Linked DNA regions of Homo sapiens. The protein of the gene in region 1 purifies or fractionates together with the protein of each later gene. This does not show direct contact. Each region holds a gene or a part of one and is shown on either strand. Other genes may lie near its edges. The genes, in order: CHST5, TOR3A, HAPLN3, SEC62, TPPP, UTP25 and DPY19L1.

Evidence for each region.
Region 2: the proteins of CHST5 (region 1) and TOR3A purify together in Homo sapiens (affinity purification with mass spectrometry; one large-scale study listed by BioGRID and IntAct). This does not show direct contact.
Region 3: the proteins of CHST5 (region 1) and HAPLN3 purify together in Homo sapiens (affinity purification with mass spectrometry; one large-scale study listed by BioGRID and IntAct). This does not show direct contact.
Region 4: the proteins of CHST5 (region 1) and SEC62 purify together in Homo sapiens (affinity purification with mass spectrometry; one large-scale study listed by BioGRID and IntAct). This does not show direct contact.
Region 5: the proteins of CHST5 (region 1) and TPPP purify together in Homo sapiens (affinity purification with mass spectrometry; one large-scale study listed by BioGRID and IntAct). This does not show direct contact.
Region 6: the proteins of CHST5 (region 1) and UTP25 purify together in Homo sapiens (affinity purification with mass spectrometry; one large-scale study listed by BioGRID and IntAct). This does not show direct contact.
Region 7: the proteins of CHST5 (region 1) and DPY19L1 purify together in Homo sapiens (affinity purification with mass spectrometry; one large-scale study listed by BioGRID and IntAct). This does not show direct contact.

Annotation. Positions count from the first base shown.
Region 1 is NC_000016.10:75,530,570-75,533,108, forward strand, and holds part of CHST5 (carbohydrate sulfotransferase 5), read right to left. Parts: 5' UTR 2,520-2,539; intron 1,072-2,519; 5' UTR 1-1,071. UniProt on the Homo sapiens protein: Sulfotransferase that utilizes 3'-phospho-5'-adenylyl sulfate (PAPS) as sulfonate donor to catalyze the transfer of sulfate to position 6 of non-reducing N-acetylglucosamine (GlcNAc) residues and O-linked sugars of mucin-type acceptors.
Region 2 is NC_000001.11:179,092,070-179,094,282, reverse strand, and holds part of TOR3A (torsin-3A precursor), read right to left. Parts: intron 191-2,213; coding exon 66-190; intron 1-65.
Region 3 is NC_000015.10:88,878,545-88,882,044, forward strand, and holds part of HAPLN3 (hyaluronan and proteoglycan link protein 3 isoform 2 precursor), read right to left. Parts: intron 3,182-3,500; coding exon 2,813-3,181; intron 2,067-2,812; coding exon of another isoform or gene 1,999-2,066; exon of another isoform or gene 1,185-1,998; intron 925-1,184; coding exon of another isoform or gene 867-924; intron 726-866; coding exon 423-725; intron 1-422. UniProt on the Homo sapiens protein: May function in hyaluronic acid binding.
Region 4 is NC_000003.12:169,994,307-169,997,806, reverse strand, and holds part of SEC62 (translocation protein SEC62), read right to left. Parts: 3' UTR 1-3,500. UniProt on the Homo sapiens protein: Mediates post-translational transport of precursor polypeptides across endoplasmic reticulum (ER). Proposed to act as a targeting receptor for small presecretory proteins containing short and apolar signal peptides.
Region 5 is NC_000005.10:690,553-694,810, forward strand, and holds the start of TPPP (tubulin polymerization-promoting protein), read right to left. Parts: upstream 2,801-4,258; 5' UTR 2,726-2,800; intron 2,192-2,725; exon of another isoform or gene 2,009-2,191; intron 1-2,008.
Region 6 is NC_000001.11:209,837,972-209,841,471, reverse strand, and holds part of UTP25 (U3 small nucleolar RNA-associated protein 25 homolog), read right to left. Parts: intron 2,564-3,500; coding exon 2,344-2,563; intron 620-2,343; coding exon 417-619; intron 1-416. UniProt on the Homo sapiens protein: Component of the ribosomal small subunit processome for the biogenesis of ribosomes, functions in pre-ribosomal RNA (pre-rRNA) processing. Essential for embryonic development in part through the regulation of p53 pathway.
Region 7 is NC_000007.14:34,936,486-34,939,985, forward strand, and holds part of DPY19L1 (protein C-mannosyl-transferase DPY19L1), read right to left. Parts: intron 2,891-3,500; coding exon 2,791-2,890; intron 1,635-2,790; coding exon 1,509-1,634; intron 1-1,508. UniProt on the Homo sapiens protein: C-mannosyltransferase that mediates the C-mannosylation tryptophan residues on target proteins.

The DNA.
Region 1 (2,539 bases):
TATCATCAAACTGTCTACCTACCCACCCACCCACCTACTTACATACCTACAGGCTATCTATCTGTAGAGAGAAATACTATGTTTCAAAGAGAACTCCTGTCTTTTGCTTCAGGATACCTCTTAGAGAGACCCTTTTAGGTTGTGGAGCTAAAAGGGCTTGATGGGGGCTTCGGTGGATGTCAGAGCACCACCAGGCTCGCCGAGGTTGAATCCTGGCTCTGCCACTTCCTAGCCTATGATCTTGCTTATGAAGATCACTTAAATCTCTCTGTGACGGATCACTTTACCCGTGTGTGAAAGAGGGATAATTCCGGTACCTGGCTCACAGGATCTGGGGGGATTGGGGGGTTATTATAATGAAGATGGGGGAAGGGAACACGCAGTCATGCCCATAACTGAGGATTGCACCTTTTACAAGGTGTGCTTCTGTATTATATAATTTTTTTAACAGGCAGGTATAAAACTTTTGTCAGCCAGGCGCGGTGGCTCACGCCTGTAATCCCAGCATTATGGGAGGCCGAGGCGGGCGGATCACGAGGTCAGGAGATCGAGACCATCCTGGCTAACACAGTGAGACCCCATCTCTACTAAAAATACAAAAAATTAGCCAGGCGTGATGGTGGGCGCCTGTAGTCCCAGCTACTCGGGAGGCTGAGGCAGGAGAATGGCGTGAACCTGGGAGGCAGAGGTGGCAGTGAGCTGAGATTGCGCCACTGCACTGCAGCCTGAGTGAAGAGTGAGACTCCGTTTCAAAAAAAAAAAAAAAAACAACAAAAAAAAAACTTTTGTCATTAAAGATAAACAAGTAAATAAAGTGGACAAAGAACAGCAACTGTTGTCATCACTGGTGGGGAGTGAAGTGCTGTAGGCAGCATGGGCTCCAGAAGGAGGGTGTCCTGGAGCCCTGTGGGTTTGCAAGAAGATCAGTTGATGGGGAGCTGGGATGGAGCCCAAGAAGCAGAGAGGTGAGAGCAGAGTACTGTCCTGGCCAGCTGAGGGGACTCACCACCGTCCAGGGCTGCTGGGAGAGCTGCAACGCTGATCACAAATCCATGGGAGATGTCTCGACATCTGGCAAAGCAGGAAGGAGAGGAGATCAGAGCCCTACAGAGAGACAGCCCTGTACATAGAAAGCTCCCCAGGGTGGGAACAGAGCTGTCCTGCCTGCCTTTTGCTTCAGGATAACTCGTAGAGAGACCCTTTTGGGTTGTGGAGCTAAAGGGCTTGATGACGGTTTAGGCGGATGTCACACCACCACCAGGCTTGCTGAGGTTGAATAAGTCTGAGTAGGGCATTTCTCCAAATGGCTGGGAACTGGCGGGGTCTCCTGATGGATGGAAGCGAGAGAGCTGGCTCCAAATCCCAGCACTGCCAATGGGGAGCTATGAGACCTGGGGCAAGTGACTTAACTTCTCTGAGGCTCAATTTGCACCTCTGTAGAATGGGATTTGCAATATTTAACCTCTTAGAGCTGTTGTGATGGATGCTGCTGCAAACACCTATGAGGGGAGGGCCTGGGGAAGCATTCCTTACACACATGCCCCTGTTACTGTTACTGTCCCTGTGCTGAGCTACATCTGGAGAGAAAGAACCCCCTCCACCTGGTGAGTCTCCCCACAGAGGAGACACCCACAGGCCACCTACCCTTCCAATCCCTGTATCTCCCAGGCCATCCTCTGGCGTCCAACCACCCTGAGCCTTTAGTGGACCTTAAGAATGTCACGCATTTCTCACAGGGTGGAAGGAACACTGAGCCAGCCTCCCGCATTCCAAGGTCCTAAAGTGTTCTTCTGTTTGCACCTGTTGCATCTGCAATGATCTCAAGGCTGGGTGACTTTGGAAGGGAGGAGCCTGGAAGTTTTCTCCTTGCTCCTGCATCCTTTGCTCCTTGCCTGCCCCCTTCCCCTGTCCACACTGCCCACTGAGAGAAGCCAGGGTCTAACTTGTGAGCAGATCTCACCTCTGCTCCTTCGCCTCAATGCGGGGACAGGAGTGAGCGGAGGATGCCCAACACCTCTGTCACCTGCTGACTCCCGAGCTGCCTTCTGGATCCCCACACCCACTCCTGGAAAACCTGGAAGATGAGGAGAGTAGCCCCCCACCTCCGCTACAAGTGCAACTGTACTTTTTCCAGTGCTGGCTGATGGATGGTGAGCTCCCTTGCCAACAGAGTGCCAGAAAGGAAGGGAACTCATATTTGCTGACTTCAATGATCACAAGTGCTAGGTGCTTCGAGTCCACTGGATAACTTAACTCTGGGCCCTGAGGTGGGCATGATGATGTCAATTTTTCAGGTGAAAGACTCAAGGCTTAGAGAGACAGCAAGAAAGCTGGGACTCCAGGACTCCTGTTCCGAAGCTCCTGGCACTTCTGATCCCAGGCTGTGGGCCTCTCCCACCTGTGATTGCCCCCTGCAGAGTGCAGGACCCTGCTGCTCTGGCCCAAACACAGTTGTCCTGGCCAGCCCAGCCCTTCCCTGGGTAGGGAGGATCTTGATCCCAAGCTAAGGTGTTTGTTACCTGTGTTCCAGGAAAGCCAG
Region 2 (2,213 bases), on another chromosome or scaffold:
CAACAAACACATTAATTATCACCAGCTGTGGCTCTCACCAGAGGCATATTGAGTCAGTTACTCACCTATGGTCTCCACAATCTCCGCCTGGAGGTGGGGCTCCAGGTGTTCCATCGTAATTTCTTCCCGGGACCATCCAGCCTTGAGCAACTTTAGGACCACCTCATTGATTATATCGCCCCTGAGATTACTGAAAGAGACAAGAGCTTGTTAACCCATTTGTTTATATTTAGCTTCCATATATGTTATCTCACCGCTGAAACCAATGCATTAGTGCCTGGAAGAATAGAGGCTGAGGGGCGTGGACCTTCTCTCTCTTCCAGGAGACCTTGTCACAACCTCACAACCCAAAGGTCTGCACAGAAAAGACACTGTCCAGTTTTGCCACCCATTCTCTCTTGTTCCCTCTTGACACACACTTACTGAGACTGTGCTAAGTGCAGGGAGCATGAAAAGATGGTAAGATATGGTTCTTCTGTGTGGTCTGAGGGGCATCCGTGTATTCGGTTCCAGGACAGTGTGGCAAGCGCTAATGGAGGAGTGACTGAGTTCTAAGGAGAAGGCTTCAGAGGGAGGATGAGGCTTCTGAGCAAATAAAGACCAAGTAGTGATCATCAGACACTTGGCAAGGAAGGGAAGTGTCTAGGCCTGGGTGCGCCAGAGGAGCACAGGCATGAAAGGCTGGCTAAGGTGAGGAGGGCTTTGTCTGCCATTTGCATGGACTTGAGCTTATGGATCATGGAGAAGGGATGGAAAGGAGGATTTAAGAATTAGTTATGGAGGCACAATTGAAAAACCCTGTAACTGATGGATGTGAGAAGTGAAAGGAGGTCATCAAAGAACAAGCGTTAGCCTCAAGCTGCTTGCTGTCCCCCTTAACAGAGGTGGAACACGGAAAGGTGGAGATGAAAGTTTGGTTTTACACACGTTTGAGTGTTTTTTGCTTGCCTGTGATCTCTCTCAGGTTGTGATATCACTGGGCAACTGGAATTACGGGTCTGAAGCACAGAAAGTGATTTGGGTTAGAGATAGGAGGGAGAAAGGGGATAAGGAGAGAAGATGCAACCGTAGAGCCACCAGCAGGGAAGCTGGGACAGAGGTAGTGGAGACTTGGCCTTCCTCCGCCCTCCACGGCCCAGGCATACTTCTCCCCCACCTCACTGCACTCTCCTCCCCTCCCTGGGCTGCAGCCTCAGCCAGCTCCACCAGCTCCTTAAACCAAGTCCTTGCCCAGCTCCACATCAATGCACTTGCACTTCCCCGTGCTTTCTCTCTTTTTGGAGACAGTCTCATTCTGTCACCCAGATTGGAGTACAGTGGCGTGATTTTGGCTCACTGCAGCCTCCACCTCCCCAGGCTCAGCTGATCCTCTCACCTCAGCCTCCTAAGTAGCTGAGACTGCAGGTACATGCCACCCTACCCAGCTATTTTTTTTTTTCTTGAGACAGAGTTTCACTCTTGTTGCCCAGGCTGGAGTGCAGTGGCGTGATCTCAGCTCACAGCAGCCTCTGCCTCCCGGATTCAAGAGATTCTCCTGCCTCAGCCTCCCAAGTAGCTGGGATTACAGGCACATGCCACAATGCCCAGCTAATTTTTTTAGTAGAGACAGGGTTTCACCATGTTGGCCAGGCTGGTCTCAAACTCCTGACCTCAGCTGATCTGCCCGCCTCCCAAAGTGCTAGGATGACAGGTGTGCCCGGCCCTATTTTTAAAATTTTTTTGTAGAGACGAGGTCTCACTATGTTCCCTAGGCTGGTCTCAAACTCCTAGGCTCAAGTGATTCTCCCACCTCAGTCTCCCAAAGTGTTGGGATGACAGGCATGAGCCACTAGGCCTAGCCTCCCTTGCATTTTCCTCAGGTCCAGCAGAATGAGGGAGGGTAAAGGACAGGGAAGGCAGGTGGCAGGTTAAGGAGTGGGGAACCAGTATCTCCATCTCTTTCCCTCCTTACCCAGCTCTGAAAGCCCCCATGACACCTACCAGTATATTAGCTCACATCTTTGCTCATTTAGCCTGTGACCACACCCTGTTGACTAGGCTCCATGGGGGCTGCTGGGAAATGAGGGGAGCTGTGTGGTTCTCTCCCTCCCTGCCTCCACCATTGCGTAGAGGCTAAGGCTGGGCAGGCGTCCTTCCCTGCCACGCAGGTTAAGCCCGGACAGCCAAGTTGTCTAGCTAGGTGCCTCATTGTAGGGGGAGGTGCTAATGTGTCT
Region 3 (3,500 bases), on another chromosome or scaffold:
CGGTCATTTACTGAACACCTACTATGTGTCAGACACTTTTCCAAGGGCTTGGCATATGACACTGAACCAGTTTCTGTTTTTACTTGTTCATCTTCCTACGAAATGAGCTGCTTTGTGAAGACAGGCTGTGTTTTATTCGTCTGTGATTCCCGAGAGCCTAGTCTAGGCCCCAGCATATGGTAGGCACTCAGTAAACATTTGATGAATGAAGAAACCAATGATTTATGCCCTGCATAACGCAGCAGCAGCAAAGCACTCAAAACTCAACCAGATGCTGCTTCTAGGGTGGCTGGTGCTCTTGGCCTCCAGGTGGCAGTACCAGCAGAGCCAGCAGAGGGGGCCAGAGCTCCCCAGAAGCTGCCCTCTCACAGGTCCCAGGTGGCCACCAAACCCACAGGCCCGCGCTTGGCTATTCCACTCACCCTTGAGGGCAGTAGCGAAGCAGAATACATCATAGCGGTGCAGGCGGCGGTGGCGGGGGCCGTAGCTTCGCACGCCAGGTGCCAGGCCCGGGCCACCGCAGGGCTGCCGGGGCAACATGATGGGGTACTGCACCGTGGCATCCTGCAGCCAGCCCGCGTTGCACCAGTCCAGGCCCTCCTCCCAGGCCCGGAAGAGCTGCTCAAAGGAGGCCACCACCGCAGCCTGCTCTGCACAGACCTGCTGGCCCTCGTGGAAGTTGAACTGGTAGCGCCCGTTGGGGGACTGGTAAGGAAAGACCACACCTGCAGGGGAAGGAAAGAGGAGCTTAGGGGGTGGCCAGGGGCCCAGCTGGCTGGACACCCCGCTCTCCTCCCACCTTCACTGGGACATGTGCTGCCTGCAACACACACACATACACCATCCCTCAGAAAAACTCAGCAAACCTCTGACCTCCTGTCCGTTGCCGCCTCTCTCCTGGGACTCAGCTGGTTCACAGCAGTACTCAGAAAACATCCATGAGTTAAGGTAATTAATTAGTCCATTAATGTCCCCAACAATGTCCCCAACCTAATCCGCAAGGCTGTCGCCAGACCCCCAGTGAGGCTGTGCCATCTTCTCCAGACAGGCCCGGGCTTTGGGCTCTAGGGGCCAGGTTTGACTCCCAGCTCCCCACTCGTTAGCTGGGACCCGATCGTCTACGTTATTATGAATGTGGAAATTTCCTAGGAAAATGCAAGGAACTTTCCACGTGTGGCAGATGATTTTCAGGAGAAGGAGAGGCCCTAGAGGCCGTGGGGAGAGGGTTGGGGAAGGGCCTTCCATAAAGGAGGCTCAAGGGCAGGGAGGTCTGGGGCAGGCGGTTTCTCTCCTTGTGGTCAGGGTCTGATAGAGGCCACAGGCCCTGAAAAGATATGTTCGTGTTTGAAATTTTACTCTAATAAAAAGTTTTTAAACTTCTGAGATGTAGTCTCTACCAAGTCAATGAAACCTTAGGGAGTGGAGGTGACCCTAGGGGTCTGGGAAGGACACTTTGGAATCTCCTCCGTGTGGCCAAGGACCCAGGAACAGCCTGAGCCCCAAACCTCCGATCTCACCAGGGCCGGAAGCCAGGCACCTGGGCAAAGCCAGGTTGGGCGGCAGAGAAGCCCATGGGCCCTGACAGTCAGCTTGCAGCCTCTACGTGTGTTTGCAGGGGGACTATTTCATGCCTGGTTCCACCCCAAATTCCTAGCCCTTGAAGCCCCGGGAATGGGGTGAGGGCTCCCTGTTTCTCTAGGCTGCCCCTGCAGACCCCAGACCAATGACTCTTGCAGGTTCTCCCCAACTCCACTGCCACCCCAACTTCAAGAATGAGGAATGCGGCCCCTCTGAGCCACCATGTAAGCCATGTGGACACTGGTGGCAAAGACAGAGAACGCATTTTAAGGACATACATCTTATCCTCATTGCCTCTGAGGGAGGTAAAGGAGGAAAGATTGTGATACCCCATTTTACACCTGAGAGGCCCAGGGCTCTAAGGGGGATGAGGCATTTACCCACATGTCATAGCTGGGACGGGCTGGGGCTAAAGTCAGGTCACCTTCCTCTATCCCCGAACTGCCTCCCTAACATGTGGGAGAGATGTGAGGACACACAGCCCCATCCTAGAGACAGAGAAGGTAAATACAAATTAAAGATCAAACAGGGACCCCACATACAAGATCCGGCTTGCAGGGTGTGGCTGGTTTGGACAGCACTGGGTTTTTGTTTTTGGTTTTGGGGGGGCTTTTTGTTTGTTTTTTGTTTTGTTTTGTTTTTAAAAAGGAGGTTTTTACATAAAAATCAGGAGATCTCACATAAAAATATAAGCTTATCTTGTCAAGCCAGAAAATTTGGCAGTGGGGTCTGCATTCTGGCGTGGCATCATCAGCTGGGCCTGAGTAGTGTGGGAGCTCCCTGGGCACAGGACAAGGGCTCAGGAGTGTGCCCAGTCCCCACCACTCCCATCGTCTCACAGTGGGCTGCCTCATTCGCTTGTGTTACCCGCTAACCTTGCTTAAATCTCAGCTCTGTCTCTAATAAGCTGTGGGACCAGCTCTGGTTTTCCTCTCTCTGAATGAGATGTGAATTACAGCGGGTAGAGGGGAACAGATTCTAGAGGCTGGGTGCTTGGGTTCAGACCCCAGCTCTGTCGTTTACAAGCTGTGTGACCTTAGGTAAGTTACTTGACCTCTCTGTGCCTCAGTTTTCTCACCTGTAAAATGGGGGTCACAACAGTAGCTTCCATGTGGGTTGTTTTGAGAATTAAGTACTTTTAAATGTCTAAAGCACAGAGGTCTGGATGTTTTCTCTGGTCCTCTCCCCTCTGCTCTCAGGTCCCAGTGTCACCCAGTCCCCGTTAGCATCTCACCCCGCAGCTCCAGCTCCACCAGACCGCTTTCATCCTCCAGCCCGTCAATGACCTCACAGCGGTAACGCCCATAGTCCTCCAGCCGCAGATCCTGGATCTCCAGCGAGACGTCATGCTCTTTGTCCTGCCGCAGGTGCACGCGGCCTTGGTAGTCCCCAAAGGAGCGGTGCCTCAGCCCGATGGCCACCAGCACGTCCTTCTCTGGGGCCCCGTTCTCCGACAGCTTCCACCATTTGACACGCACACGCCGCGGGGAGACCAGGGCCGGCTCGTAGCGGTAGCGGCAGGGCAGGATCACACTGGCCCCTTGGTAGGTGAACAGGGTCTCCTCGGGTGTCTCCACCACCAGCTTCACTCCATTAAGGAGGTCTTGGGGGAGAGACAGGGTGCAGATGAGACCTGCTGAAGCACATCTGTACCCCTGCAAGGGCCACCGCACACCCTCATCCACGGCTCCTACAGGCTCAGATTGCAAAAATGGCCACCATGCTCCACCCCTCCCTGTATCCACATGCTCTGCAATGTGACTTTGCATCTCCTTCCATCAAGAGATGACAGTTATTCCCCCACCCCCTTGAATCTGTGCTGGCCTTGCCACTTGCTTGACCAACTGAATGCCTTGGAAGTGACTGTTATCCATCATGCCTGCTCTGAGCATAGGTCCCAGGGGGCCTTGCTGCTTCCACTC
Region 4 (3,500 bases), on another chromosome or scaffold:
CCCATGCATTTCCTTTTCTGCATTTAAAAACATTATTCTGGCCAGGCATGGTGGCTCATGCCTGTAATCCCAGCACTTTGGGAGGCCGAGGCAGGTGGATCACCTGATGTCAGGAGTTCAAGATCAGTCTCGCCAACACGGTGAAACCCTGTCTCTACTAAAAAATACAAAAATTAGCTGGGTGTGGTGGCATGTGCCTGTAATCCCAGCTACTTGGGAGGCTGAGGCAGGAGGATCACTTGAACCTCAGGAGGCGGAGGTTGCAGTGAGCTGAGATTTCGCCACTGCACTCCAGCCTGGGTGACAGAGTGAGACTCCATCTCAAACAAACAAACAAACAAAAAAAACCCATTATTCTGAGGAGTCCATGACACAAAAAAGTTAAAGTGATCTAGGAAATCATTGAAAATGAAATAAGACCAAAGTGTGATGATATGACCCCCTTGAAATTTAACTTATCTTTCCCTCTTTCTGTCATGCTAAGAAGAGATCATAGGCCTTTTGGACAATCCTAAAACTATAAACCTCAGAAAATATGTCCTCTCTCAGACTGAAATTTCGTCTGATTGGAAAAGCCATGCAATTAAAGTATCAAAGGATCTCTGTGCTAGGTTGGACAAATGAAATAAACGCATTGGGACCTACTCAGAAACTCACAACTAACTGCTTTAGCCATTGGTTTAAGGGCTTGCCAAAGAAGGCAAATTTAAATTAATCTCCTTGTGTAGTTATCTGCATGACATTCACTAGAACAGGATTTTAGTTATCAAAATGCTTACAACATGCTGTATAAAGTTATGAGATCTTTTCTAATGTTTGGTGATAAGGATCTGACAAAGAGGTCAATTCCTCATTGGAATTTTTGTTCCCTAGGAATTTCTCCTTGGTATTGGTCTTGATTCCAATAAGAAACAGATGGTTCTTTACATGAAGATATTATGAGGAGATAAGTATAGGTATAGGCTACCCAAAGAGGAAGCACAGTAGCTTCTGCAACTCCAGGCTAGTAGCAGCAGAACTGACATCATCCTTGGCCAGAAAGGAAGAGTGCAGGGACTGGCAACCTGGAAAGCAGGGAAGGAGTTTGGGAGAAGTGACCTTTGGCTGCTAAGGCAGCCCCCCAACCCCAGGAGAAGAGCCGAGAATAGGCACCCTACCATCCTCTGATCTCTGGCCAGGACACTCCTTGGCCAAACCCACTCAGAAGCCAGGAGGCATAGGAGCCCACTGCTGTGGTCCATTCGGGTCAGCTTTGTGGGCAAGAGCAGAGTGGAGCTGGAGGGGAAAACAAGAGATATCCAGCACATGTAGCAATTTGCTGCCGTAGCACTTAACACACTATTTAATGGTGCAAGAGAATTGTATTTTTATTCATGGTTGTGCCTAGTAAAATTCTGGTACATGGTAAGTGCTCAGTATTACTGAGTGAATGAGCAAAGACCTGAAATACTGTGGAAACAGTAAAAGCAAATTACCACACAATTAGGAGGAATTATTTTCAGACATAGGATATTTAAAACATCACTCAAATACTGGAGCATGATTCAGCAATAAATTCTATTCCATAAACCAGGTAGATAAATGTCACAGCTTTAAAATATAGTTAAGTACAGTTGATCCTCGTTATTCATGGATTCCGTATTTGTGAATTTGCCTAACCTAAAATTTTGTGGTACAGCAAAAAACTTGCTGTACACATATTCTGAGCTGAGGTTGAACAAGGCCATGTTCCAGCTTTCATACTATAAACGTGTCCTTTTTACGCTAATGCCATGGTTTTTGCATTTCTGTTCTTTTTTTGATTTCACTGTTTAAAATGGCCCCCAAGCATAGTGCTAAGGGCAAAAAGCTGTTCCTAAGGGTAAAAAGGCTGTTGTGTGCCTTATGAAGCTTATGTGTCAGATAAGCTTCATTCAGGCATGAGTTACAGTGTTGTTGGTCATGACTTCAATGTTAATGAATCGATTATATTAAATAAGGTGTCTTTACAACAGAAATTTACATGTTGACTGCTTGATGAAAATGTGACCAGTGGCTTGCAGAAATCTAGCCTTGTATTTCCCCTAGGTTCTATATTTGCTAATTCAGTGTTCGCAGTGACTTTATAGAACGTAACTACCTTGAATAATGAGAATCAACCATACTTGCTGTTTTCCAGTTCCTAATAGATTTAAAAAAAAAATTCAATTTACAAAAGACACAAGATGACTTTTCTTGTCAGCAGCTAACTGATCCTCATGATGTAAAACCAGAAAGAGGGGGGAAACACCAAAATTCATCACCACTGCATAATTTCAATGTGATATATTAAAATTTATTACTTCCTGAATAGTATTCAACTAAATCTATATTATTTCAATTAAAGTTACCTAGGCCATATGGTTTGAAAATTGAAAAATCCAGTAAGAGGGAAAAGGAAAAATACCTTATTTAATACATTGACTTTAAGAACAATCACATATGCATTATTCTTACTATCTGAACTTAGCCTCTGGTAAATTCAATCCTGCTTAGTTAGGCCAATTGATACCCTCTACAATAAGCCCTACATGATCAAAAAGCTTCATGCTTTCTACTTACAGCAGCATAGCAAATCTGAAGTTCTTAAAAAAAAATCGCCATTCTATTAACAATTATAAACGATTTTCCATGCTCTGGTACAAGAATATTTAATGTTAGCCAAGAAAGATAGCCATCTATTCCACTGAGGATTGTAATAGAGGCAGCCTTTTGATTTTTATATTTGTTTAAAGTACACAACTTGAATAGTAAAATAGAAACTGAGCTGAAATTTCTAATTCACTTTCTAACCATAGTAAGAATGATATTTCCCCCCAGGGATCACCAAATATTTATAAAAATTTGTACTAACATTCTGTAAGAATCCACACACATCAGTAAGAAGCTGACCTTCCTGTTGGCCATGCTCCAAATGTCTTTAAGACTAGACAAATTACATATATTATAAAAAATTTCAGGATGAATATTGAGTGCCTGGGTATTATCACAGTAATAGTAAAGGTTAATGAAATAATTTTTATTTCTGAAAAACACCATGTTTATACCCCAAAATAGGTATCAATGTTACTGGTGATAAACTCAGAAGTGATCATTATATATATGCTTACTGTGGAAATGAAGTAGTAGAGCTCTGCAAATGGGACGGGAAAATACCCAGGCACTTCATCAATGAACATTTATTTGCTAAAAAGAAACTATTAAAGTGATTGCAGCCTTGACATAGTTGCATTAACATCAAATAGCCACATTTATGTCCACTTACAGGGACTACTATAAAGAAGCAATCAAGCCAAGTTTAATAAAATGTGTCGATACAGAAAACATATTTTTCACAATTAGAAAAATTTAACATCTTTAATTCAAACACTTAGATGAGAAACAGCCTAAAGCAAAGACTGACATACACTACCTATTTCAACCACAAAGCAAGATGCTCTCACTGTGACTGAAGAAAAATCATTTAATATTCATTATTAGTT
Region 5 (4,258 bases), on another chromosome or scaffold:
GGGGTGGCTCCCACAGGCCTGGGAGGGAACAGACTGCCTGACTCTCCAGAGAGCTCCCCAGTCTCCATCTGCGATGGGTGATCCTAATTTTCTTCAGGAAGTTCTCCTGAGCCCTGCGTGTGGCGCTTTGGCCTTTGTGCCCACGGAAGCCCCCTGCGGCCCCTCCCTCCGGGCCCTGCCCAGCCCGGTGCACGAACCCTGTTTACCGATTCCCAGGCCTAGGGCAGCCACTGCCAGTGTGAGGCTTGCAAATTAGGGTAGGGGGTCAAAAGGAAGCCCCTGTTGACCATTTCTGTGAGCATTCTATGCTCATTTCCACAACGAGCATTTATAACCTCGTATAATCGCTAAAACATTTATTGCAACTTCAGGGAATTCGGGAAGATAGACCAACCGCAGCTGTAAGATTAAAACGCAGCCAGTGACCAGCGGAGCTTCCTCCACGCACACGCGGTCCAATCCCCATGACTTCATGTTTTGTGAAGATGCAAAGCGAGTTCATGCCGGCGCCTTTCTGAATCAGAGATCCGTTTAGAAACCATGAAAGCTGCAGACCCCTCCCGGGAAAACGCACACACCCTCCTGGAGCTCGCCTTCTGCAGCCGCTCCGGGAGCCCGCCCCTCCCCCACAGGCCCTCCGAGGATCACGTGGTGGGGAGGCGCTGGCACCGAGCGGCTGACAGGCGCGAGAGCCCAGTTCAAGGCGGCGGCATCAGGCTGCAGCTGCCTCACTCCCCTCCACTTCCTGCCCCTTCCCGGCCTTGGTCCAGCCCCATCTCCTAGTCCCAGGCCACAGGGAGCTGGGTCACCTCCCAGGGGCAGGGGCTGGCTGGGCGTGGGGGGAGACCTCTCCCCCTGAGAAGTCAGGCGGGGAGGGGTGGCCGGGGTGGGCGGAGGGGCCCAGTCCTCTATCGGTCCCCCAGGGGCCCTGCAAGCAGAAGAGCCAATAAACATGCCAGGTGGATCAGCGGTGACACTGAGAGGGAACGCAACACCCCATCAAAACAGCAGCCCCCCAACCCCCATCAAAACAATAGCCCCCAACCCCCATCAAAACAGCAGCCCCCAAACCCCATCAAAACAGCAGCCCCCAACCCCCATCAAAACAGCAGCCCCCAAATACCCATCAAAACAGCAGCCCCCCAAACCCCATCAAAACAATAGCCCCCAACCCCCATCAAAACAGCAGCCCCCAACCCCCATCAAAACAGCAGCCCCCAAATACCCATCAAAACAGCCCCCAACCCTCATCAAAACAGCAGCCCTCAACCCCCATCAAAACAGCAGCCCTCAACCCCCATCAAAACAGCAGCCCCCTAAACCCCCATCAAAACAGCAGCCCCCCAAACCCCCATCAAGACAACAGCCCCCCCAACCCGTATCAAAACAGCAGCCCCCAACCCCTCATCAAAACAGCAGCCCCCAGACCCCATCAAAACAGCAGCCCCCCAACCCCTATCAAAACAGCAGCCTCCCAACCCCTATCAAAACAGCAGCCCCCAACCCCCTATCAAAACAGCAGCCCCCCTAAGCCCCCATCAAGACAGCAGCCTCCCAACCCCACATCAAAACAGCAGCCCCCCAGACCCCATCAAAACAGCAGCCCCCAACCACCTATCAAAACAGCAGCCCCCAACCCCTATCAAAACAGCAGCCCCCCAACCCCCTATCAAAACAGTAGCCTCCCAACCACCTATCAAAACAGCAGCCTCCCAACCCCCTATCAAAACAGCAGCCCCCAAACCCCTATCAAAACTGCAGCTCCCAACCCCCTATCAAAACAGCAGTCCCCCAACCCTATCAAAACAGCAGCCCTCCAACCCCCTATCAAAACAGCAGCCCCCCAAACCCCTATCAAAACAGCAGCCCCCAACCCCGTATCAAAATAGCAGCCTCCCAACCCCTATCAAAACAGCAGCCCCCCAAACCCCCATCAAGACAACAGCCCCCCCAAAACCCTTATCAAAACAGCAGCCCCGCCACTGCCCGGGAGGGACAGGCTTCTCACCTCCCTCGGCTCCGTTTACGTAACCGAAACCGCAGAATAAAGGGCTCCTCAGATCTTCGGGCGCTGCTCCCAGGGGTGCGGGAAGGTGTCCCGGCAGCGCCTCTCCATCGCCACAGGCCCGCGGACAGTAGCCAAGACCCGGGGCAGCTGGAGGCTCTGCGGGGGGCGGTCTGACAGCCCCACCTGCCAGGACGCGGTGGTGTCAGGACCCTGAGATGGGCCGTTTCTGTGGCCAGGGATCTCTCAAAACCTGCTGCGGGCAGTGACTTCATTCCAGCCCTCCACGCCCTAATTTCCCACGCCTCACACCGGCGGCCCCCTAGGCCTGGGAATAGGGAAACGGTTCGAGTCCCGAGCTGGGGAGGGTCTGGAGGGAAGGGCTGCAGGGGCGTCCGTGGCCGCGAAGAAAGGCCAAAGCGCCAGGCACAGGGCCCGGAGACGGTGACAGACCTGTCCCTGGCGCGGCCGACGGTGACCCCCGCTCGCGGCCTTTGCAAAGCCTCCCCGTCGCGTCCTCGCACCGAGCCCGCAGCGCCGAACTCCGGGCATCCCAATCCGGGGGCTCAGGGACGCGCGGGGCGGTCCGGGAAGGGGGCTCGGGGGAGCGCGGGGGGCAGGGGCTGCGGCGCAGGTGGCTGCTGGGGCTGACGGGCCCAGTCTCCGCCCCCGGGTGCCCCCCGCGCCGCGCCCGCGGGACCGAGCCCCGCGCCCGCTTACCTTGGAGACGCAGCGACTGCAGCGGAGGCGCCTCCGCGACTCGGCCGCGCGCGACCCGGTGCTCAGCGGAGCTCTCCAGCCGCCGCCCCGCGCCCGCCCGTCCCGCCCAGCACCGCCCAGCCCCGCCCAGCCCGGTCCCGGGCCCGCCCCCGGCCCCCAGCGTCCGGCGCCCGCCCAGCGTCCCGCCCCGCGCGCTCATTGGCAGCCCCGCCCCCGCCGCCCCACCCGGCCCGGGGACGCGCGGGCGCACCGAGACCTCTGCCTTACAAGGCCGACTCTGCTCAGGCCCCGCGGACCGCCGGGTATCCGCTCAGCGCAGGGCGCGGCCGACCCGCGGGTCGTGGGAACCGCTGGGCAGGGGGCGGCGGGGCCCCTCACCTGGCTCTGGGGCCCCCCGGGGACGACCGGACCCCGATCTCTCCGCCCCGCAGGACGCGCGTTGACGGTGCGGCGGGGGATGGATGAGCGCGGCCGCGGCCTCCTGGGGTGGGGTGGGTTGGCGGCGGGGCCTCGAGGACGGTGCGGGGCGAGCCCCGACCGCGCCCAGTTCTTTAAGGAGCCGCAGACGGTGCAGGGAAGCGGCAGGGCCGGGCTGTGAGGGTGCTCGGACCCCAAGGCGGGGCGCACCCAGGGGACTGGGCTTCCAGGTGGGGGCAGCGCGGCCGGGGATCGACCTGAGCAGGGAGACGGGTCCGTGCCGGGCGCCCAGCGCAGCTGCTCGGGAGTGGGCCGCCCTTCACGCAGGAGTGGAGGAGCGGAGCGCGCACCCCTGACCCCGGCCTCAGCTTCCGTTCTCCCTGCAGGTCGCCCGTATGCAGCGCCACCATCCCGGCCGCTCTTCCAATCTCGCCTTTCTCCGGGCACCTGCCGCCCCTCCCCCGCTCCCCAGACAGGCTTTGCGGAGGGGGCTCATTCCGCCCGGGGCTGCCCGGCCCTCCGCAGGAGTTGGCTCCCCACAAGGTTCCGGGGCCGAGATGACAGGGCGGTTCTGTGGTGCTGGGTGCTGGGACTTGAGGGGCATAGGGGCACCTGCCCTGGAGGAGGCCGAGGCGCAGCCCCCCAGGAGGAAGGGGTGCCTCTGGTGACTTTCAGCTGGACTCTTCCAGCTGGACTCTAGTGCAGCTGAGCTCCTCCCCCAGCCCCGGCTCTGTCCCTGCACCAGGTGTCCAGCAGGCCCTGGAATCCGCAAAGGCAGAAGGGGAAGTTGGGGTGCTGGGTGCTGGGCAGGGGGTGCTGAGGCCTCACAGCCCGGCGGCTTGGCCCCCACCCACCCCACGGTGGTCCCGCGCCCCACACTTCCTCTCCTCTCCTGTGGTTTCTCCTTCCACTCAGTGCTGCCCAGAGATGGGCTTCTGTCTAGTTCTCCTGAGAAATTCCACACTCGCAGCTGGGAAGTCGGGGGACCCCCGAAGCTGTGCGGCGGCCACGCTGCGGCTCCTGCTTCCCTCCTGCTCGGGTGCGGGCTCGGCTGCCTTCTCGTCCCGCGGAGCCCGGAGTGCCTCCCCCTCGGGTAGATCCTACTAACAGCATCAA
Region 6 (3,500 bases), on another chromosome or scaffold:
GGTATTCCCATCTTCACCAAAGACCAAACAAAACAGCATAAGCAAAAACCACATGTGGGATTATGTTAGGTAAAGATGTTCCTGGTGAGGACCCATCCATCCATCAACCTATCCCATCCACCCATCCACCCACCCTAAAGTTAGTAGAAAGAAATTTTAAGGGAAAGAAATCTTTTCTGGAGATTTGAAAATGACTGACAGGAATTTTAATCTGTAGACAGTTTAATTATGGACAATCTCTGGGTAGAAAAGGGGACAAAAGACTTTTTCAAATTAGAAAATGTGGAGTGTGTGTCCTTGCTTCCAAACAAGAGTTCTAATCTGGACTTAAATAATTCTTTAGGACTTAAACCACTGGGTGTCTTATCCCTCTAAATATGAATACTGTCCCACTGAATGTGAATGGCCAGCATTACCAGGACATGCTCCCAGTTCTGCATCAGGTAAATGTCAGCTTGATCAATGATGAGAAGCTCGATAGAAGACAGAAAGTCAAAATCTCTCTTCTTCTCTCCTTCTCCACCAATGATGGTCCTCAAGCCCAGGGGGGAAGCAATGAGGATATCCGAGGAGTAAAACGGGGCATAGAGTCGGATGCTTCTCTGAAGTATTGCCACTCCTACACAAAACAGCCAAGTACACACCAATTCATTAGTCACTACCAAGCCATTACCTTCCACCCTCTCAAAGCAGTCCACCACTTCTATTGCTTCCACATCTCTTTTGTTCCTCTTAGCATGTAACTGTGCTCAACTGCTTTAATTATTAAAACATAAGAACAAGAGAAATCTCTCCCTTGCATCTATAGTCCCTTCTAGCTTCTACCTTCTCTTCCTTTCCGTCACTATCAAACTGCTCCAGAGAATTCTCTCTACTTTCAAATCTCTCCTTCACTTCTCACTCCACTGCAATCCGGCCTCTGATTCTCAGGACTCCAGAGAAATGACTCTTGCTAAGGTCCCCACAGTCCTCAGTCACCAACAGGATGAACACTTTTGAGAGCTTCTTATGAGGAAAGTACAAACGGCACAGAATGTACTAACAGCTGCCTTGCAATGCTCTTTTCCTTGCTAATAGTTTCCATGACTTCAACTCTCACTTTTGCTTCTATCACTGACCTGGCCCTTGTCTGTCCTTCCAGATCCAAATAACTCTTCTGCAAACTGGTGGATTCACTTGTCAGCTCTGCTCTCGTGCTGCATAAAGCTTTGGGTTAACTGACTCACTGATCATGGCTTTAATGTCACCTTCACACAAATGTGTATTTCCAGCCCATATCTTTTTCCTGAGCTCCAGAACAATATACCAACTGCTTCCTGGACAGCTATATATGTTCCAAACAAAACACGAGCTCTTGTCTCCTTATGCCTTACATTCCACCATACCGAAGCCTGTGTGAATCATAGGTCATTCCAAGCTTAGTCACCCTGATGCCTCTGCAACAGGCAGTTTCCTGTCTGAAATGTTTTCCTCCACTCAGCCACCTCCCTTTGAAACTGGCTGAATCCTACACAGGTTTCCACCTAGTACAGATGACACCTCCACCACGACATCTTCCCTAACCACCCTGCCCCCATTTTGGGTAAGGGGGTTTGCTTTAAATGCTCCGAGAACAACCGTTGCACACATATCCTGCACTGCCTGCTCTGTCGTAGGCTGGATTTCCTTAGCAATGGGAACTATAACTTTTATTTCTATATTTATCTGTAGATTCCCAGCTTCTTAACAGTGCCTGGCACACTGTAGATACTCAATAAGTATTTGTGAATGAGCATATGTGACTAATGAACATTTCCCCAAGAACTTTACTCTATAAAAGGTATAACCAACCAAAGTCAATGGGAGCTGAATGAGAGACAAGCAAAAATGTGAAAATTTGGGTGGAAGTCATGTGTGGAGATTATTCAGGGTAGGCATCTATGTAGCACACAGGAGAAAGTCCACCTTTATGTAGAGACAGTCATTTTATTCAGCCTCCCCAGAATGACCCCATCAGCCCCATCACTTCCAACATCCTAGAGAACCCCTTGTAGCATCTATCTGCTACCAGCTATGGGTGTGCTTTCACACTTCTGTTATAAACTTGCTATAAATTTCTGTTATAAATGTACATGTGCCTTTCATATATGGCCTCAGAGATCCTCCCGACTCCACTGGCCTAATGTCCACCCCATTAGCCAAGGCAAGACTCTCCCATGGCAAACAACATGTCTCAAAGGCACACTGGTTCTGTTAAAGAGGCACAGTGAGTGATCCACTGGGAAAATATCTAATTCCAGCTTCTGGTCTCCAGCTATGTAGACCTTCACACTTTAGGTCTCAAAGTTGATAAGGAAGAATTACCAATCCTGAAGTGGTCATCAATATTGCCCACAAATACGGCTTCATAATCCTCAGGCCTCTTCAAGTTGGGTGGTCTCTCCTCGGGATCTGATCCATATTCTCCCTGAAACCTCTTTTTGTTGCTCACAATGATTTTCTTCTTGCTGTCACCCTCGAGGAGGCTGATGAAGAGCTGCACCACCCGCAAAGCAGCTTCCCGGAATGGCACCACTATCAGTACCTGTGCAGACAGCAACAGCAGCCTTAGTGGGGTAAGAGGAAGGAACAGGATCTTGAGGTGAAACTGCTGAGGAAGTGGAGCTAAAAAGCTCCATGTAGAGCAGTGGCCCCCAGCCAAGAAACATACCTATGTTACCCGCTTTGCGCAGGGCTTGGCTCAACACCAGAAACTGAGCACCTTTCATAACCCCAGCACCATGACCTGCGGACTTCAGACCCATCAGTCCACGTGAGACATTTCTCAAGCAGAATTTGGAAATACCTTTTACAATAAGCCAATGCCTCTAACAGATACGTCTACCAGTAAAAACTCAAGGACATAAACACATGAGCTCTTTGAGGGAAAGATTTCTGTGTCTCCCACAGAATTAGTGCAATATTTTTATCCTAAAGACACAGTGAATAAATACATGTCGAATAAATAAATGGAACAAGTAGAGAAGAAATAAAGCGGGTAAGAAAAAGGATTAACACATCATTACATTTCTAGTGCATTCTCTATACAGTGTTTCAGAAATGACAATAAAGCATTTCTAAAAAAAAATGACCACAATTAATGGGAAAAACAGGACTCAGCTTTCTAAGCATATTCAAAAATATTTAAAGTTACTGTTGAGAATAAAAACCGAAGATGCTTAAAAAATGGTTAATTTCTAATTTCCTATTGTAAACAATGGACATAACCCCAGTTAAATCACGTAATTCACCAAATTATAATATGTTTCATAGATAATCTGCCTCTTATTCTTCTATGTAATTCTAAATGGAAACAACCTTATAACCCTGATGTTCAAGCCCCAAGGAGTGCAGTGGACTCAGCTTGGTACAGTTGCAGAGATGGTGGACCAAGATTTAAGAGGACTGGGTTATTGTTCCAGCGGTGACAGTAAGCGTCGGGGCTTTGGTTTCCCCCGCTATTACACAAGGGAGTTTGACTA
Region 7 (3,500 bases), on another chromosome or scaffold:
ATAAAGAAGATCCCCATTCTGGTAGAAAGCTATGCTAAGAACTGAGTTCTTCCTATTGCAAATGTCAGCCTATCATTCATTTCATATAATTTCCTAAGATCGTCATGAGATGCTTAGAACTTTTCTGTCCTAAATTTATATAACAATGTTAAAGGTGAGTATGTGAATTTCATATACATATTCACAAACGCTTAAAACATTTTCTGAATTATTACAAAATAACATTTTCTATAAATCCTGACTGAATTCAAACCACGTAGCACACGTTCATAGGAGAATCATTCTATAATCAACAATTATTTTAGTTTCCTTGTGAGCAAAGCTGTAGATACTATGTCACAGAACTATTTTTCACTCACGACTCAGTATTTAACAATGTTGTCTTAATACCATATGTGTCATTGAAATATATGGTGGGAAAGTGTGATCAAGCCACAAATATAGCAATCTCTTGAACGCTTTTGTTTAGTTACAGAATAGTAAGAATTTAAAAAATATTATTATTCCATAAAATAGTGTTTATTTCTGATAAAATTGTTCCTGTACTGTGCTCTTCATGAAGTGAATGTTTTGGTACTTTAAAAGCAGGCTACTGTCACCTGGTGTCCAGTCACTTACGTGCCACATTTCTAGATAGCTTTAGATTCACATCTGCTTTGAAGATCTTACTGTCACTTGGAGCTATACTCAGCTTAGTAAACATCTCTGTGGAAATAGAAACTTAAAAACTATAAACCCAAGAGAAAGTGGGTCACAGTAGAGTCATTTTCCCATTCAAGTAAGATGTGAAACACCAGGAAAGAAAAATTTCATTCTGAGTTTTTGCTGACAGGGTATCCCATCCATCGACAGGACATGGTGTAGCACAGAGACCCAGTAAGGATAATGTGACCCCTGGTGCTCAGCTGCCTGACTTCACCAAAAGAGACTCCCCATTACTTGGTTTCAGACCCTGGAAGTCTTTTGAAAGAAAATACATCCAACTTTAAATAAAAGTTTCTTTTAAAACATCAAAGGCAAATATGAACAATTTGGGAGATTATCAACTAGTGCCAATAAAATCTCTTTAAGGTAGTATACACATACAAATCATTATTTAAAAAAAAAAGATATTTATAAAGACTATAAAAGAAAGTCTCCAAATCATTATCTAAAAAGTTTTTTCAGGCCAGGCGTGGTGACTCACGCCTGTACTCCCAGCACTTTGGGAGGCCAAGGCAGGAGTAGCACTTGAGGCCAGGAGTTTGAGACCAGCCTGGTCAACACAGCAAAACCCCATCTCCACTAAAAATACAAAAATTAAGTGGAGCTTGCAGTGAGCCCAGATCATGCCAGTGCACTCCAGCCTGGGCAACAGAGTGAGAGCCTGTTTAAAAAAAAAAGAAGAAGTTTTTCCATGTATACTTTATGTTATATACACACCCCCGCCACCAGCAAAGCATGTGCCATGTGCTTGAATTAACCTTCATGTCTTATGATTATAAAATGTTAACTGTGTTGATACTCACTTGGATCTTCTTACACACCATGACTCTTCTAGAATGTAATAGTTCACTTTTAACTTTATCAGTTCTCGCTTCACTTCTTCGGCTGCTTTCCGACTATACATTGAGTATACTATTTTTGTTCTGGCTCTTTAAAGAAAAATAATTGGGCATAAAATTTTCAAGACTAAAACGATACAATAACACATTTGGAAGAAAGCACTGAATTAGACTAGAAGACGATGAAGAAGAATCCAGTCAGGAGGAAATTCCCCATGGAAGTTCCCGCTAAGGGGCATCAGTGAGGTCAAAAGCAGAAGGCAGGAGGAGGACAAGTTGTGGAGAAGAGGGTGACCTTTAACACACCCCTACATTCCCAAACTTGGTCTCTTTGTGTTTGTTCACTTATTTATTTGTCTTAAATTCTTCACTTCGCTATCACATGTAAGAGTAAGGTACCCTGTGTGTGAACAGGGATGAACTACAACAAACACAACTATAGGACTACTGTGAAGCTGCAACAGTCCCAACTTAGACATCAACAATAATTCACATTAAATGGTTCTTCATTTTATTTCTAGATTTAAGAAAAACTAAACTTATTTAACAAAATTGGTCTGGAAATTAGCTTGATGAGATTGATTTTTTAATGAAAAAGCTTATTTGTGAATGTACATGCCATTGTTATGAAAAAGAAGATGCTAATAAGATTCACCTAATCACTTAGAAAATGAATAGCTTCACCTGCCTTAGAAACTGCAAGAAAAATTAAATTTTTAAAAAAAAATTTGGACAACACATCTCTAAATTATTTTTTAAAGTCTCAAAAAAATCTAAAAAAACATAAAACACCCAAGATCATTCTAACAGGCTATACTGGTGAAAACCAGAATAAACTCCTCTTTGAATGGGATTCTATTTCAAATGACTTCTCCAAACTCAAGAAAAATCACCTATGAGAAAACCTTAATAAACACTCTAAGCTAAACTCCCCAGGGAGTTACAGGATGAAAAGGACTTGGACATTTTAGAGCCCTGTTAACCTGTGGGAAAGTGCTATAGTATGACTTCGTTTATATGCCTGGTAGAGAAGAGAGCCCCCAAAGTTGTCACTTTCCTGCCCTGTGAAGCTTTAACGGATTTGTTTAGAGCTTAGCGGTCTTATTTCAGCTTTCTGCTCCCTGACTCGATAAGCCTCAGTTCATCATATCCTTTTGAAACATTCCTTATTACTTTGCTGGTGTCCTCCACTCACTGTCTGTTTGCATGGGAGGTTTGTTTTGATGATGCAAGACTGTGCACTGACCTCAAGCCTGCGTCTTCATAATGTGGATGATTCACAATGGGCCGAAGTGCAGAGAGCTTAACACTTGCCATCGTGGGCATGGCACCCGCAAACACTGCATCTGGAAGGCAAGAGGAATGTCTCAGGAAGACACTCAGTGAAGGCGAGAAGGTGTCTCCTTCAAGTGTAAATCAATTATTTCACAGGTAACAGAGCGGAAGCCCAGCAGGTTCATGACTTCAAGATTCAATGGCAGAACTAGCATGAAGTCAGATGGCTGATAAAGTAGCAGTTGGCAGCCAGGCCTGGGTAAACTATTTTCCTTGGAAAACAGAGCTTCATCATCTCATCATTAAAGATTTCTTTCTTTCTTTAAAGAAAAAATCTTAGAAATCTTTCCTGAATCTAAAAAAGAAGTATCAAATGGACTAGGAAAGCTTTACAGTAACAAGGAGTTCTGGAAGATGATTTAGTATTCAATCATTTGATACTCAGATGACAACAAAGTCTCCCTTTCCACACATGAATAAAATGTCACATTCCATGAGTTTATTTCAAGAAGGAATGTGAAGGACTAATATTAAAAATTCATTAAGAAAATAAGCACAGGAAAAATTATTTTAAATGTGGCATTTATGACTGTGAATAAATTTTGAAAAAATTAAAATCTATAAAAAATGGCAGAATAAATTACTAAGAACATATGTATAACATTTCCCCTGCAAACCATT